Homo sapiens: one gene and its partners. The protein of the gene in region 1 interacts with the protein of each later gene in a pairwise test. Each region holds a gene or a part of one and is shown in the gene's direction. Other genes may lie near its edges. The genes, in order: FBP1, PCNX4 and KLRC2.

Evidence for each region.
Region 2: the proteins of FBP1 (region 1) and PCNX4 interact in a two-hybrid assay, tested with the Homo sapiens proteins (one large-scale study listed by BioGRID and IntAct).
Region 3: the proteins of FBP1 (region 1) and KLRC2 interact in a two-hybrid assay, tested with the Homo sapiens proteins (one large-scale study listed by BioGRID and IntAct).

What each region holds. Positions count from the first base shown.
Region 1 is NC_000009.12:94,611,896-94,615,551, reverse strand, and holds part of FBP1 (fructose-1,6-bisphosphatase 1), read left to right. Parts: intron 1-3,656. UniProt on the Homo sapiens protein: Catalyzes the hydrolysis of fructose 1,6-bisphosphate to fructose 6-phosphate in the presence of divalent cations, acting as a rate-limiting enzyme in gluconeogenesis. Plays a role in regulating glucose sensing and insulin secretion of pancreatic beta-cells.
Region 2 is NC_000014.9:60,094,832-60,098,487, forward strand, and holds part of PCNX4 (pecanex-like protein 4), read left to right. Parts: intron 1-3,656.
Region 3 is NC_000012.12:10,433,791-10,437,546, reverse strand, and holds the start of KLRC2 (NKG2-C type II integral membrane protein), read left to right. Parts: upstream 1-1,536; 5' UTR 1,537-1,560; coding exon 1,561-1,747; intron 1,748-2,136; coding exon 2,137-2,235; intron 2,236-3,016; coding exon 3,017-3,061; intron 3,062-3,604; coding exon 3,605-3,756. UniProt on the Homo sapiens protein: Immune activating receptor involved in self-nonself discrimination.

The sequences.
Region 1 (3,656 bases):
TGGAAGAATGCAATTTTCCTTGCAAAATATCAAATCCACAGAATAGCAGGAGAGGTTTGTAGCAAAATTCTTCCTTGCAGAGGAAGACATCTGGCTAATGTGTTAACCACAACTAAAGCAGTGTTGATGTTTACTAAGCCCATTCTCCATCTCAGTCCCCCCAAATAATACTTTTTAAGGAAAAAAAACCTGGGAAATTGAGAGACATTGGCTATCAACTAAAAAAAAAAAATCAAGCCAGCTTGCAACAGCAGCTTGAATTATGAATGACAGAATTCTCAACAATAAGGCTCGGCTGTCTTCTCAATGAACCAGAAGTGACTTTTTTAAAAGACAGAAAGTGGGGCCTGGTGCGGTGGCTCACCCCGGTAATCCCAGCACTTTGGGAGGCCCAGGCGGGCGGATCACGAGGTCAGGAGATTGCGACCATCCTGGCTAACACGGTGAAACCCCATCTCCACCAAAAATACAAAAAATCAGCCGGGTGTGGTGGCAGGCCCCTGTAGTCCCAGCTACCTGGGAGGCTGAGGCAGGAGAATGGTGTGAACCTGGGAGGCGGAGCTTGCAGTGAGCCGAGATCGCACCACTGCACTCCAGCCTGGGTGACAGAGCAAGACTCTGTCTCAAAAAATAAATAAATAAATTAATTAATTAATAAAAAGAAAGTGATGATGAGTATGACACAGACCTCTAAGTCATTTCAGTTTTTTGAAGCCTTATTGATTGCTTGAAACAGCTGAAACCAGTTGAGGGCTCATGAGGCATAAACATAGACATCTATAATGCTTCCAAGGGGATTTTTCCTGCTTTCTGCAGAGATGATTGTTGGCTAGAATCGCACCATGGTGCCCACGCCCAGTGGGGCAGCATCAGTAACTGTGACCCTGCCATGGTGACCAGGCCTTGCTACACGATTCCTGGAAAGGCACGTGGAAGGATGTGTGGTCATGTTGCATGCAGCTCCTGCCACAGCATCTTTCCAGGGCCTACCGACTACTACTATTTCTTTTTTGAGACAGAGTCTCTCTCTGTCGCCCAGGCTGGAGTGCAGTGGCGCCATCTCAGCTCCCTGCGACCTCTGCCTCCCTGGTTCAAGCGATTTTCCTGCCTCAGCCTCCTGAGTAGCTGGGACTACAGGCGCCCACCACCACGCTTGGCTAATTTTTTGTATTTTTAGTAGAGACGGGGTTTCATTGTTTTAGCCAGGATGGTCTCGATCTCCTGACCTCGTGATCCGCCCACCTCGGCCTCCCAAAGTGCTGGAATTACAGGCGTGAGCCACCGCGCCCGGCCACGACTACTACTATTCTTTCTCTTTCTTCTCCCTGTCCCTCCCCCTTCTCCCTCCCTCCTCCTCCCCCTGCTCCTCCTCGTCCCCCCCTTCCTCCTCTGCCTTCTTCCCCTCCTCCTTCTCCCTCCTCTTCTTCTTCCTTTTCTTCCTTCTTCCTTTTTCTTTCTTTTTTTCTTTTTTTGAGATGGAGTCTCCTGTGTCGCCCAGGCTGGAGTGCAGTAGCACGATCTCGGCTCACTGCAAGCCCTGCCTCCCGGGTTCACGCCATTCTCCTGCCTCAGCCTCCCGAGTAGCTGGGACTACAGGCGCCCGCCACCACGCTTGGCTAATTTTTTTTGTATTTTTAGTAGAGACGGGGTTTCACCGTGTGTTAGCCAGGATGGTGGCAATCTCCTGACCTCGTGATCCGCCCGCCTCGGCCTCCCAAAGTGCTAGGATTACAGGCGTGAGCCACTGCGTCCGGCCTTTTTTTTTTCTTCTTTTTTTTCTTTTTTTTGAGACAAGGTCTCACTCTGTCGCCCAGGCTGAGAGCAGTGGCGCCATCATGGCTCACTGCAGCCTCACCCTCCCGGGTTTAAGCCATCCTCCTACCTCAGCCTCCTGAGTGGCTGGGACTACAGGTGCACCACCACACCTGGCTAATTTTTGTATTGTCTGTAGAGACAAGGGGGTCTCGCTATGTTTCCCAGGCTGGTGTTGAACTCCTGGGCTGAGGCGATCCTCCCGCCTCGACCTCCCAAAGTGTTGGGATTACGGGCATGAGCCACGGTGCCTGGCCCCACCAGTGTCTGGCTGGAGACATCCTGACAGGGCGAATTCTCCTGCAATGCTGGGTAACCATCATGGTTTGTCCAAATATTGAGTTGAAATCTGTTTCATTTTGCTCACTTGGCTGTTTAGAGCATAAGAAAATAAGATTCTTTGACATGTTTGGAAACAGTGTTTCTGCCCTCCCAATAATGCCCACCACACCCACTTTTTTTCCCTTTAAGCTGAACATCTTTCACAGGAGAGGGATCTGAGACTTCTCTCTAGCCTGATCACCCTCTACTGGACATACTCTAACTTGCAATGTCCTTTACAGCTCCCACCACAAAAGCAGAGATTCAGAAAAGTAGGGTTTGGTTTCTGCTCCGAGGAAAGACCACTGTGGACGTGACAGTCTCTCCTCCCCCAGGCCCTCCGTTTCTGTGCCTACTTCTCCTTATGTGATGACATGGAATAATATGTGATGACATGGAGCCAGTGCCTACAGCAGGTGGTGGCCTCAGATAGGCAGAGAAAGGAAGGGTCCAGAGGTTTCTGATTTTGCCAAGTGCTCCGTGCTCATTGGTCCCTGGGCATCTGCAGGAGAATGGAATATGTTTCCCTTGGAGGAAAGGCATGCATTGCTGAGCATTTGGAGGAAGGAATTAGAAAGGGGGCTGATCCCAGCTCTTTGGGAGGCTGAGGCAGGCGGATCACCTGAGGTCCAGAGTTCGAGACCATCTTGGCCAACATGGTGAAACCCCATCTCTACTAAAAATAAAAAAAAAAATTAGCCAGGCGTGGTGGTGGGCGCCTGTAATCCCAGCTACTTGGGAGGCTGAGGCAGGAGAATCACTTGAACCCAAGAGGTGGAGGTTGTAGTGAGCCAAGATTGTGCCACTGCACTCCAGCCTGGCGATAGAGCAAGACTCTGTCTCCAAAAAAAAAAAAAAAAAAAAAAAAATTGGGGGCTGGGCTAGAAAAGAATTCCTCCAAATCCATGGCTCAGTGGGATAATTTTCTCTTCGTTTTGAGTATGTGGGTCATAGACAAGTATTACTATTATTTTTTATTCCGTGCGAGGAAGTGTATAAATGTAGAGCATTTGGTGACCGTATGTCAGGGAAGGGCTGTTTACTTTTGCACCTTTGCCACAGGCCGGCACGGATGGTTCTGGGCGAGGTGAATCTCTGGGAAAAGGGGCCTTTATTGGCAGAGAACTGGTTACTTGAAGCCTGCAGTGGGAGGAGAGGAGAGTTAGAGTCCTGAGTCCACCCACTGTGTACCTGGCTTCAAGGGAAGCTGGTGATTGTTAAAATGAGCCTCTGACAGGCAGCGCATGTTGACAAAGGCCATTAATTTCATTTTTCAAGGTTGTGCATTGGCAAAACTTGGAATTATTCCCTCAAAGTTTTGATCCTGTAAGTTTAGTCTGTGTTTAGCTCCACTGTACTGTCTGGTGAATACAAACCAAACTGAATCAAATAACCCAGTGCAACCAGCTAACTAACCACCTCCCCAGGTGAAAACTAGGAGGGGCAGGGAAGCGGTGGAAAGAAATGGGTTTGTGGTTTTCTGGTTTGTGGTTTTCTCATTTATATGAGTAGTTGTTATGCTT
Region 2 (3,656 bases), on another chromosome or scaffold:
TATGATTCAAAAACTCATTTTGCCACTAACTGACATTGTATCTTGGTTAAGTCACTTAATATCACTGGTTCTCAGGTTTTTTTGTAAAATAAATTAATTTATTTCTAGTAATTCATGTGAGTAGCAGACTTCATTCACCTGATACTTGATTTTAAAAGAAAAGTTTTTCAACCCAGGGAATTTATAGTGGGTGTCAGTCGAGAAAAATGATGGGACAAGTCTCAATCATTTTAGGAGATTTATTTGCCAAAGTTAAGGACGTGCCCGGGAGGCAAGTCTATGTCTTTCTTCGAAGATGATTTTGAGGTCTCCAAATTTAAAGGGGAAAGGGCAGGATGTTGAGAAGTACACAATTGTCATGTAAGAGGTGGGTAGGGGCAAATAGTTATTTATGCCTTTGGCTCAGTGAATCTGCATTTTTTACATAAGATGACATAAAAGGGGCAGAGGAAAATATTAGGGGAATCTGCATTTTACATAAGATAACAGACAAAATGGGGTAGGGGAACAATCAGATTTGCATTTATGTCTGGTGGGCCAGGGGTAACTGCACCTGTAAGCTGTCAATTGACATTGCCAGGATGAAATTTTAGCTCACTGGGAATTTCCCTGTGGGCAAAATATAGGGGAGGTGTGTAGCTTTTCATCTTGTAGCCATCCTATTTAGAAACCAAAAGGGGGGAGACAGGTTTGCATGACCCAGTTCCCAGCTTGACTTCTTCCCTTTGGCTAAATGAGTTTGGGGTCCCAAAATTTAATTTCCTTTCACATTTCCCTTCTTTTTTCTGTAAAATCTTTTGGAGAAAGCATTTTAAAAGGAAGACGAGTTCCTGGCCTCAGGTTGGTTTTTCCTCCCTTTTTTGAGCTGCTTTCTTATTGCTAGGATGGTTTATTCCTAGAAGTTCAGGTCCCCAGTCTCTAGGAAGGCTCATTTCTAAGAGGTCATGTCCCATGAAGGTTAAAAAAAAAAAATAGGAAGAGGAAAGAAGTAAAAAAGGAAAGGAAAAAAAAAGAAAAAATATATAGGGACCTAGGCCAGATTTATAGCAACAAAAGGAAATCACACCTGGAAGCTGGGTCAGGCTATATTACTGCCTTCTCAATTAGAGCAATTCTCTAGGGAATCATTACCCTAGCCCTTTCAGTTCATTGACATATTTGCAGGCACATAACCATAACAACACTGTAAGCAGAAACAGGACACAACACAAACTATTATTCCTAATATAAGCAATAAGCTTCTGTCACCAAGTTTCCCAGGATCCAAACCCACCACTCAACTGATTGATTAACGAAGGTTTTGGGTGTGACAGATATCTGGGTTTTCATATCAGTCATAAGTCAGATTATGTTCTTCAATTCATCTGGAATATAAACACAACATTCCATTTTTATGATGGTGCAGGTCCTCCCTTGTGCTGCCGTGAGTCTATGTAAAGCCATACGGTTTTGCAGCACAGCTTTCCTCATAAGCATGACTTCCTTGTTTAGCAAGGAAATACTCATGCAGCTATCATTCAGGACCTTTTGGGAGTAATTCACTAAAGCCTCTATATGCCATATAACATCTTCAGTACCTATCTGTGGTACAAAGATTGAAGCTAAGTGGTCATACCATTAGAATACCAAATGTGTCCAACAAGATTGTAAATGAAAAAGGTTTGCTGGTTTTGGCAGGTCTGAATTACTCGTCCTTGTGCCCAGGCATAACATAGGGAACATTGTCCTAACCACTCTGGAGGTAACCACGGCCATAAGTTAGTGCCACATAGCCAATATGTCCCATTTGGAGCTAGCCAATAAATAACTGATCATTGGCACCCAATGGGTGGCAAGCCATTCAGTGTCTTGTAATATGATAGTGTGGTCACAGCGTTCTCCAGGTATCCACCCCATATCTCTCGTACTGTTTGGACATAGGTCCTTGGTGTGATTTCTTTGCTCCCAACACAAAGCATTTTGGCTGAGTTGGCCAAATGAAGGGGTGAGCCAGATAAATCAATACCAATTTAAAAGGCCTGTGTAACAAATAATTATTCTTGCTGTACTGTATCCAAATAATTAAGCCAAGTATAGTAAAGCAAACCAGTCCTACCATGACTTGTCTTTTAATAAGTGGGAAACTGGAGAGAGAAAATTATGTTTCAAAAACTGTAGCACACCTGTTGTTAAATTCTAGTCTTGCCTCATGTTTTCCAATTTTTAGTATTTTCTACAGTTTAAATTCTGATTTTTCTGGCTACAAGTTTCTAAAATAAGTTGTGCTTCCTTAAAGTCCTATGAACTGAAAACTAGATGTTTTATCAGGCGCTGCCTCTAAACCCCCCAACCATCACAGAAGGAAATCTCTTCACTGCTGGCATTGACAACTAATAACTGAGGGTGCCCGGAATCCTTCACCCCATGTCTAGTGAGTCTACGGAACCAGGGTAATTGAGACAATATCTGTTACAGGAATCAACTCCTGGATACATCACACTTGAGTCAAAGCCTGGAAAGCTGAGGAAGCAACCCCTGAGAGCCCAAAGGAACGTCCTAAATATAATGGAAATTATTTACTACGCCTTGTGGGAATTGCTTTACTCTACTATTTGCAGTAGGACTATATACTATAGCACCTTCAGGGTGGAATATCTGACAGGGAATCTCAATTGCTGTAGCATTTTGCTTAATTATTATCCTCATAGCAGGAATAACTGTTACTAACAAAAGATAATATGTGGGCCTTTCCAAACATGTGCCTCTGCCTCTCATTAGGTAGGGAATGTTGTTTCTATCTCAACCAATCAGGCCTAGTAAGAGACTGCTGAAAAACTTAAAGGTCTAAAAAGCTAAGGGAATACCAAAACAACCAGACAGATTCTTGGTTTGGGAGCAGAATCATAGCATGGGTCACCCCATTCCTGGGCCCTCTCCTAATAATATGCCTAGGACTAATGTTCTTACCCTGCCTAATTAACCTTTTTCAAAGATTTTTAGCTGACAGACTCATGACCATTTCACACACAACTACCCAAAAACATCTACAGTGTTATTTCTGCAGTCAATCCAAGACCCAAAAACTGTCTGTCCCCTTGTCAGCAGGAAGTAGCCAGAAAGAACACACTGCCCCTCGTCATTTTTATAACTACAGGGTCTGGATTGACAGAGCAGGAGCATCACCCTCTTCGACTTCGACGAGGACCATCATTTTAAGTTTCACCTTGATCAAAACCCACCAAAATCCAAAGGGCATCAGCCTTATGGTTAAGGTCAGCATGAACATAAATCACACAACATCTCTGACCAGAAACATTCGAAACCCCTCCCGGACCAGAGACATGCCAGCCCCGAGATAACCTTCCCCCTGGCTGGAGAGATGTCAGCCCCAAGATAACCTCCCTTCTGACCAGAGACATTCCAACCCTACCATAAGCTTCTCCCCCATGCAGAAACATTCCAAACCTGTAATAAGTTCTGTCACCAATAAATACTGTAAGTCTGTAAGAGAGAGCTTTCCTGACTGAAATCAGCCAGAAGCCTCTCTCAGGTTTATTCTCCAAAACAAACCTGTCTTTGACTGTTGAGCCACTTTGTATTTCTTTCCTCTTTAACTTACACTGTGACCTTACAAAACACTCTTATTCAAAAACCCTCCAAAAGTCTTGAATTTGAGT
Region 3 (3,756 bases), on another chromosome or scaffold:
AAAATATAAACTATGTTTAAGGATTTCTTAGAGTATTCACATCATTGCCGCTGGAGAATCACTCAAGTAGATGCATACATAATAATAGGTTTGCCAATCCATGTAATTTAGAGTGAAACCCATAACCATCATGACAATGAACAATTAATTTTGGATTTTGTAACCATTACATTTTGTATATTATATTTAGACCAAACTTTAAAAATAAATTTTTAATATGGATACATCAAATTGTGAATGTCAAACATTAATTCTCAATCACACACCTAGATTTCATGAAAGCAGTTTTAATTTTTAATAAAAGTAAGGATGAAATCATTTCCATAAAATGCAAATCTGACCTTAATTATAAACAATTGGAAGACTTAAAACAATTGAACCAAACATTGCAAAAAAGATGTACCACACTGACATGAGACGCCTAATTAATGAGTTATTTTAACACACTCTAATGCAAATCAGAAATAATAAAATGGCAATTGTGTTAAAAATAGTTGAAATATCTATTATGTATTCAGTGGTAACATGTGCCAGGTTGTGTGTTTAGTTTTTTACATACATTATACTTTATAAATTATTTTTCCCAATGTAGATTAGTAAACTAGGTTAGTAGACACTAAGTAATTTAGTACAGGTCACATATTACAACTTGCAAAGCTAGAATTAATTGTAGTCTCACTGACTACAGAGCTCATTGACTAGATTATTAAATTACATTATCTGAACTATTACAATTACTTATACAACCAAAGCAACCCTCACTGACTTATACAATCATAGGAGCTTTCTGAAAGTTTGATTGGACACTATTCTTCCATAGACGGCCCACACGTTTATTTATCATTTTAAGTTTTCCTATTTTAGTCATTAAATCAATTACCAATTTCTTGTGTAAAAGCAGCAATTTAAAAATACGTTTTCAATAATATTTATGCATACAGTAATGTAATGTTTTACAAGATATATTTTTAAAATTTTAATGATTTTTCTGATTTCCTAATTTAGAAAAAAAATCATTTGACAATACCTCAGGTCCTTTTAATAAATGAATGTAAGTCACTAACAATGTATTTTAGTATAAGAAGATACTCTATATGCTGACAGAACTATTTTATCTTATGGCACACAATCCTTAACCATCAATGACTCTTAAAACTATGATAAAATTTGTGTATTTCTAAATACAGTATTTTGATTGTTGACATATGCAGTCTATTGGTGTTAAACATTTTTGAAGAATCTAACCTTAATTTAATACCAATTTTTCATGAACTTCCTAGTTCTCATAAGTTTAATGTTTTTATTGTTCCCACTAGTAATATTATGTCAAATACAGAATACATCTAAAAAATTGCCAATTATATCGTGTGATTTTTGTTTAAAGCTTTAGGAAATTAGTAGCAGAATTTTACATTGGTTAACAGCAAAGTAAACATTATTACTCAGCCCCAACACATGCACATTGCCTATACCAGGGATCCTGTCAAAATATACACCATTTATAGCTTCTTAAGTGCAGTTATCATAGAGCACAGTCCCTCACATCACACAGCTGCAGAGATGAATAAACAAAGAGGAACCTTCTCAGAAGTGAGTCTGGCCCAGGACCCAAAGCGGCAGCAAAGGAAACCTAAAGGCAATAAAAGCTCCATTTCAGGAACCGAACAGGAAATATTCCAAGTAGAATTAAATCTTCAAAATCCTTCCCTGAATCATCAAGGGATTGATAAAATATATGACTGCCAAGGTAAAACATTAAATATATCTTCAATATTATTGTTCTAGGATGTGCAGTTGAATGCAGAAGGGTGAGGAAAGATTAGGGAATATTTTGCACTTGTGAGAATCGGAGTTCATAATTGGGATCTAAAATTCTAATATGAAATCAGAAGACTAATTTTATTCGGGCATTGTTCAACTGTAATCTGCGGTCCACTCATGGAACATTATATTTACTGAAAATGAAATGGTATATTCTGAGAGAAAGATTACTAGAGTAGATGTAGATTTAGAGGCCAGAGTTTATCATTATGTTTCCCTGTGCATGTGGGTTCTCTAGTATGTAATTCTCTAGTATGTAATCCTAATCAACTCTCTATCTCCCCTCTCTCAGTGCCTCTATTTCTCTCCCTGCAGGTTTACTGCCACCTCCAGAGAAGCTCACTGCCGAGGTCCTAGGAATCATTTGCATTGTCCTGATGGCCACTGTGTTAAAAACAATAGTTCTTATTCCTTGTAAGCATATTCTTGAAAGATTAGAAGGGAACGTTTTACTTTAATGCTTGGAAGTGCCTCAAAATATTTCATACTGTTGAAGAATAGAACTCTTATTTTACTGTTTCTTTCAAAGATCTATTACTTCATTTATTTTTATAGAAAAAGTTAATTTTATTAAAGATTGTCCCCATTTTAAATAACACACAAAGTTTCAAAGTAAGAAACTAAACTCATTATGGTTTATCTAAATATTACTTTTTATAAAAATCATTTTAATTTTTCTGTTACAGTCCTGGAGCAGAACAATTCTTCCCCAAATACAAGAACCCAGAAAAGTACATTTTTATTTTCAAAGTTCTGATATTAGTACAATTTGGAACCAAAAGTAATATGGTTATTCTGAATTTTTCACAACATAAATAACAAAATCATTGTAGAGAACATGTGTTTATTTTTTGTGTGTAATCTATATATATGTATATACATACACACACAAAGATATTTTCTGATTTCATAATTCAAAGGCATGCTATAGAAGAAAAGTATTTAGAAAAACAAATTAATTTTTGAAAGTGGTTACATCAAATACTACAAGAGATGGTGAAGTTTGTGCTAAAGTCTTTAAAAATGTTTATTTCAAAGGTCTATTACTTTATATATTTTTATAGAAAAAGTTAATTTTATTAAAGATTCTCCCCATTTTAAATAACACACAAAGTTTCAAAGTAAGAAACTAAACTCGTTATGGTTTATCTAGATATCAGTTTTTATAAAAATCATTTTAATTTTTCTATTACAGTCCTGGAGCAGAACAATTTTTCCCCGAATACAAGAACGCAGAAAGGTACATTTTTATTTTCAATGTTCTGATATTAGTACAATTTATATTTTGTGTCTGTTTTAAGGCATGTAAAAGAATAGTGGCATTTTTGCAGAAAATAAGCCATAAATTCAGCCATAAATATTTATAAAGAAAGATTATGAGGCAGCATTTCCTTTTCTCCAGTGAGTAGAAATACTCACTTAAAATCATTCTACCCTCTTTCTCCCAATTAACAGAGGTTTCCTACTGCTGTGAGATGATACCAAATAAATAATTTTACTATTCTAAAAAAGCAGTTGTGTATCAGCGATGTTCAACACATGTGTAGAGTGTATTTTTGTTTGTTCATTTGCTTTATATGGGAACACAATTAGGGAGGAGAGGCTAACCCTTGTCTGTGCATGTGTGTATGACTGACTCAGTTATTAAAAATATACATTTATAAGCCTGTAAGGATGCGTAAATATGTTAAGCACATATATGTTTATACTGTTGAAATATGTGAACTAATTTTCATTTTTAAAAATTCATATTGGTCTAGATAGTAATTCATATCTTTATTAGCACGTCATTGTGGCCATTGTCCTGAGGAGTGGATTACATATTCCAACAGTTGTTATTACATTGGTAAGGAAAGAAGAACTTGGGAAGAGAGTTTGCTGGCCTGTACTTCGAAGAACTCCAGTCTGCTTTCTATAGATAATGAAGAAGAAATG